Regions from separate parts of the Homo sapiens genome. Here region 1 is reported to be linked to region 2. Evidence: microRNA targets listed by miRTarBase, many of them from high-throughput screens and not tested one by one. Region 2 holds a microRNA gene; the other region holds the end of a gene's coding sequence.

Region 1 (3,000 bases), not on the chromosome of region 2:
TGTGTTTTGTTTCCTCTTTTAAAGTAAAATATTGAAGTGATATTTAAATGTTTGCAAGTCTCATGACCTTCCTATAGAAATTCACATTAGTATAATAATTTACATTACAAATACAATATAGCCTTTAATTTTGAAGAGTAAAAATGGAAATGGAAGATGAATTACTATAGTGTAGTTCACTTAAATCGAAAATGTATATTTGAATAGTTTCAGTGAAATTTGGCTCATATGACCATAGTTTAATAGAATTCTTATTTCTATTATTGATAACCTTGAATAAAAGGATCTAATTATAAGTTATCTAGGTTTTTTCCCTTTTAGGGAAGAGATGTTATGTTTTTGTACTACTCTTGGCTATAGCTGTAAAGGATGTGTCTGAACCTGGTAAAACTTTTTAAAATTCTGAGTTCAGTTCTGTAATATTAATGAATATTACATTATAAAGATCACTTAGGAGGGGTTTAATATATGCTGATTTGTTTTATATGAATTGTTAGAAATATATACAGAAATAAGGGTAGTTTCAGGCTACCTTTCAGGCTATTATTAGTTGGGCAAGCTTATTTTTAGAGCTTTTCCCTTTCATTGGTTGGATGTAGGGCCTGGGAATACAAATAGATTTTAATAGTTTTACTAGGTAAAACTGCTAGAGAGAAAATTCATGTCCCAAGTAGAAAAATTAATATAGCTGAATACTTAAGTCCTTGTTGAAAAGTTTTCTGAAATACTGGAGTTCATTTTCCTGCCTTGGTAAGGCATTTTTAAAATTTAGTTTAGATGGCTTAAACCATTTAAAGAAGCTGTCTTCATTGTAAATATCAATTGTCAATATCAATTTTCACTGTTCAGAACTGTCCAAATACTCTTAAGGTTTGTCTATACTAAATTCCTATTCTTTTTAAAATTTACCTGTTTTCCTTCTCCCTAGTCCCCTTTCCTGCCCTTTAAATCTGAATAACCAGAAGCCATATATTCAATGTTTTATGTATTTTCAATGTTTTGTGTATAACGATATATGAAGTTAGTGAATTCTGTAAGACAAAAAGATCGTTTTTATTCACTTTTGATTACAAAAAAAGGTTACATGAATAAAATAACAATTTCCTTTAAGAGAGGGATTCCTGAATGATTAAACTGCCAAGGAAAAAAGAGTGAATTCTTCCTTTTAATAAAGGTGACCTAGGTCCTGAGGAAGTTAGGAAAAAAGAAAAACTCACATTATACTTGTTAAATTTGTTTTCAAATGTGATTATTAAGTTGTTGTATTTATTTTTTGTTATAGACAAAGCAAACCCAAAAACTAGTCTAAAAAAGAATTCCTATGCATTATTAAAAGAGATAGTAATAAAATATGTATTGGTGGTGAAGAATTCCACAAGCACTCAAGATTGACATAACCTTTAACAAAGTGGAAAAACTTTTATTAGAACTGCCAATTCTAGGTTCAAATTTATGTCAAAGCACTTTATGGTACCATAATTAGTACAACTAAATTATTTTTTAGCTTTAAATGTCATTTTTCACTAAATGATTTTAAATAAGACATCTGAGAGTTACTTGAGGCAAGTTTAGATACCTGTACAAGTTTAGATTTTGAGAAACTCCCTATTTCCTCATTGTGTGTCTCTTTCACATGCTTTTTAGAATCATTTATTCCACAACATGTTTCCAAATTCTATCTAGTAATTTTTAAACTTCAAAAATAATCTCCCTGTTCAATTACAAGGTTCTAAAGACAATAAAATACCTTATAATTTCAGTAACAACATTTTTCTTTTTCTTGGGCAAAGTATTACAAAGTGTTCGCCTAATCCTCATAATGTTCTTTTAAATTAACGTGGAAATCAGTAATTATCCTCCTTAAAAGGTGGGAAAACTGAAGCACTGTAAAGTTAGGTTCTGACCCAAGGTCAGAGTAACCAAGGTGAAAAATCTGGGTATTTCAACAACTGCTGTTCCAGTGTATGTCTATTATTATTCGTATCACCTTGAATAAAATATGGCATTTAAAAATTTATGATGTCATAATGCTGAGTGAGTCTCTACTGAGCAGGGCTGCATAATGTTAAATTTTAAAAAGAAAAATTACAAGCCCGGCTTTAAATAATAAAGGGATTAAGTACAGAATATATATATTTTTAAGATCATCGATGCCATTGTGTCCAATAAATTGCCTTACTAACAGTGTTATGTTGTCTTAAGACAGTGCTGATTAGAAAAAGTGTACAAAGAATGCTCTAAAGACCCATGGAACACAATATACCTTAAATTGGCACTAAGCTATACCACAATAAAAGTCATACATATTGAATGTTGACATACACTGAGAAGGGTGACGAGTTTTCAATAACGTATTTTAGAAAATTGTTCATTTTTTGCTTAAATTTATCCGAATATAAGACCTATAAAGCAAGACAAGGAAGCATGGAGCACTGAGTCTTTTCATGCCCAGTATCCAACAGTCAGAGCTATGTTTTCCTCCTGTTCATGATGGCTTGGCTTTTCAGATGGTGCCAATCCTGTGATGAGGCACTTGAAGAGTTTGAAGGTTAGGGCATGTAAAATATGGAGCTGGAAGGAAGCATGCTGCTATTCCATTGGAAGCAAAAGGGAGTGTAGGCCCATAGAATACTTCTTCTTTGCCTTCTCTGCTTACATCCAGTACCTACAAAAGAGGAAGAGAAGAAGCTTGTGTATCAAAGATGACTGCTCAAAATAAAGCTATGTATACATAAAAGAAATTCTGAACTTAAATTCAGTTATGTCACCATCACCATATCTTAGGAATTCTTTTTCTTGCTTGGATGGTACTAGAAATATTTATTAAGCTCCTACTAAATGCTACACTATGTTAGTATGTTTTTGGATGTACATATATACATACATGTATATTTATAAGCATTTAATCTTCAGAACAATTATGAGGTAGGTAGCATTACTTCATTTAAGAAAACTGCCTTAGACAAGTTAAATAACTTGCCCAAACTAGTTAGTAGGCAG
Region 2 (3,151 bases):
TTGTGGGGGAGCGGGGGGCCGGCTTTTCCCCTGAGCATCCCACCCCTGCCCCCAGACCTGAACTACTGTGGCAGCCACCACCCCTGCACCAACGGAGGCACGTGCATCAACGCCGAGCCTGACCAGTACCGCTGCACCTGCCCTGACGGCTACTCGGGCAGGAACTGTGAGAAGGGTACGTGGGGGGCTGGCCACCCAAATTCTGGCCAGGCAGGGACTGGTTCCCTGGGGAGCCGGTCAGGCCCCATCCCTCTGGCGTCCTGTGTGGTGGGCCCCTGACCCCCAGCTTGGGAACCTGTGGGCTTGGGGAGGAGTGCTTGTGGAAAGCTGGGGGCCTGGCTGCCAGCTCTGCCCCCTCCCCGCGGTTCTACAGCTGAGCACGCCTGCACCTCCAACCCGTGTGCCAACGGGGGCTCTTGCCATGAGGTGCCGTCCGGCTTCGAATGCCACTGCCCATCGGGCTGGAGCGGGCCCACCTGTGCCCTTGGTGAGTGTCTGCACGTGAGTAGGGGACTCCTGCCTAGTATCAGTGGGGGTCTGGGAGTGGGGCAACTCGCTGGGGATGGGGTGCAGTGGTCAAGTCCACACGTGTGGCTGCGGCTGGCTTGGCGAGGACAAATGGCAGGAAGACCCAGGCTTGCAGCGCCACCTGCCCATGGGGACCTTATTCCCACGGCTCACACTGCCAGGGCCCCACCTTTCTCCACCCTCTGCAGACATCGATGAGTGTGCTTCGAACCCGTGTGCGGCCGGTGGCACCTGTGTGGACCAGGTGGACGGCTTTGAGTGCATCTGCCCCGAGCAGTGGGTGGGGGCCACCTGCCAGCTGGGTAAGGGCTCCGAGCGAGTGCATGGGAACGTGGGCCGCGCATGCGGGCTGCGGGGGCTGCTGGGGCTGCGGGGGCTGCTGGGGCTGCTGGGGCTGCTGGGCTGCGGGTGCCAGGTGCCCGTGCTGCAGGGGGCAGGCAGGGCCCGAGCCCCACGGCTCCCACCTTGTCTCTTTCACAGACGCCAATGAGTGTGAAGGGAAGCCATGCCTTAACGCTTTTTCTTGCAAAAACCTGATTGGCGGCTATTACTGTGATTGCATCCCGGGCTGGAAGGGCATCAACTGCCATATCAGTCAGTATGGGGGGTGGGCGCCGGCGGGTGGGCCGAGGCACATGGGACCCCGCCTCTGACCCTGCTCCTCTGCCCCCAGACGTCAACGACTGTCGCGGGCAGTGTCAGCATGGGGGCACCTGCAAGGTGAGGCGGGGCCAGGAGGGTGTGTGGCGTGGGTGCTGCGGGGCCGTCAGGGTGCCTGCGGGACGCTCACCTGGCTGGCCCGCCCAGGACCTGGTGAACGGGTACCAGTGTGTGTGCCCACGGGGCTTCGGAGGCCGGCATTGCGAGCTGGAACGAGACGAGTGTGCCAGCAGCCCCTGCCACAGCGGCGGCCTCTGCGAGGACCTGGCCGACGGCTTCCACTGCCACTGCCCCCAGGGCTTCTCCGGGCCTCTCTGTGAGGTGAGGTCTGCCTGGTCACCCTGCCCCACCTGCTGCTCTGGGAGCTGTAGGGCAGGCCTCGTCCCCTGACCATGGGGCCTGAGTGACCCAGGGGTGCTGCAGGGGAAGTTGTCCCCAAGGCGTCCCAGGCTCAGCTCTCCACTGGGTGCCAGGTGGGCAGGCGGGGCTGTCACAGGTCACCAGGCTTGGCCCCCTGTGGCCATTGCTTGTTGTGATGGGTTTCCTGGTGGCCTGGGCTAGGAGCCCCCGGGCTGCTGGCTGCCCAGGCCTATCTGTCCATCTGTGCACTCCCTCGGGACTGGAGGGCAGGGGGCTCTGGTGGGCAGAGCACATGGGGTAGGGTGGGTGCCTGATGGTGGAGAGGTATACACCTGTCATAGGTGAGTCCTGGGTCGGAGTGGGCATCTCTCTCAGGGCTGATGCTCTCGCCTCCCTCTGACCATCTGTTGGTACTGGACCCCCTCCCCCAACCTCCCCTTCCCCCCTGCCTCCAAAGTAACCTGCCTTCCCCCTTCCCCACCACCCCTACCACCCCCTTCCCCACCTCCCCCTTCCCCACCTCCCCCAACCCTGCCTCCCCCCACCCACCTCACTATCACCCCTCCCCTACCTCCCCCAACCCTGCCTCCCCCCACCCACCTCCCTACCACCCCCTTCCCCACCTCCCCCAACCCTGCCTCCCCCCACCCACCTCCCTACCACCCCCTTCCCCACCTCCCCCAACCCTGCCTCCCCATTACCTGCCTCCCTACCACCCCCTCCCCTTACTTCCCCTTTTTCCCTGCCTCCCCCCACCCACCTCCCTACCACCCTCGGCCGCCCACGATCCTGCCCTGGCCTTGGTGCAGAGGATGGGCCTCCTGTCCAGAGGGCTTCTTGGGGCCCAGGGCAGGGGTCTGACCTCAGGACCTGCAAGCATGGCAGTGGCTGGCCCTGGAAAAGACCCACAGTCTTGGCTCTGAGGGTGGCCAGGCAGTGTGTGAGGGGCTCAGGAGCTGTCCTTCCTGCCAGCAGCAGGGGCCAAGGCCACACTCCTCCCGAGGGACAGTGAGGAAGCTGGGCTGCAGTGGAGGTGGGGGTGGGGGCCCACAGGTATCTGCGTTCAGCTAAGGCCTGGGCAGTCTCAGGTGGGCAGGGGTCTTGGGCTCTGGCTGGCACTGTTAGGCCCAGGGCGGAGGGGCCTGGGGGTCCCCAGGGATCTACCTTCGTATGGACAGAGGCCTGGCCTGTGTTCCCGGCCTGGGCCTGGGCCTAGGCTCTCACAGGCACCCCCCACCCTGCAGGTGGATGTCGACCTTTGTGAGCCAAGCCCCTGCCGGAACGGCGCTCGCTGCTATAACCTGGAGGGTGACTATTACTGCGCCTGCCCTGATGACTTTGGTGGCAAGAACTGCTCCGTGCCCCGCGAGCCGTGCCCTGGCGGGGCCTGCAGAGGTGCTGGGTGCGGCATGGGGTGGTGGGGGAGGTGGTGGGGCAGGGGCGGGCCTGACTCCTGACTGTACTGCCTGCCATAGTGATCGATGGCTGCGGGTCAGACGCGGGGCCTGGGATGCCTGGCACAGCAGCCTCCGGCGTGTGTGGCCCCCATGGACGCTGCGTCAGCCAGCCAGGGGGCAACTTTTCCTGCATCTGTGACAGTGGC

What was found. Region 2 holds the annotated microRNA hsa-miR-6765-5p (GUGAGGCGGGGCCAGGAGGGUGUGU, at 1,249-1,273, shown strand). A microRNA usually pairs through its seed, bases 2 to 8, with sites in the 3' UTR of a target mRNA and lowers its output. Matches are read on the target gene's strand: a 7mer-m8 pairs with bases 2 to 8, a 7mer-A1 pairs with bases 2 to 7 and ends in A, and an 8mer does both.
Region 1: miRTarBase lists KLHL32 as a target of hsa-miR-6765-5p. Seed matches in the 3' UTR shown: 7mer-A1 at 1,558-1,564.

Annotation. Positions count from the first base shown.
Region 1 is chr6:97,138,786-97,141,785 of GRCh38, reverse strand. It overlaps KLHL32 (kelch like family member 32), which reads right to left. Exons shown (of 11, transcript NM_052904.4): 11 at 1,033-2,665. The coding sequence ends at 2,504. Among named protein-coding and RNA genes, the nearest start is that of MMS22L, 140 kb to the left of the region's middle.
Region 2 is chr14:105,148,962-105,152,112 of GRCh38, reverse strand. MIR6765 (microRNA 6765) reads left to right here and starts at 1,249; the gene lies at 1,249-1,335. It overlaps JAG2 (jagged canonical Notch ligand 2), which reads left to right. Exons shown (of 26, transcript NM_002226.5): 7 at 56-175; 8 at 374-487; 9 at 717-830; 10 at 1,009-1,122; 11 at 1,202-1,248; 12 at 1,336-1,509; 13 at 2,793-2,943; 14 at 3,024-3,151.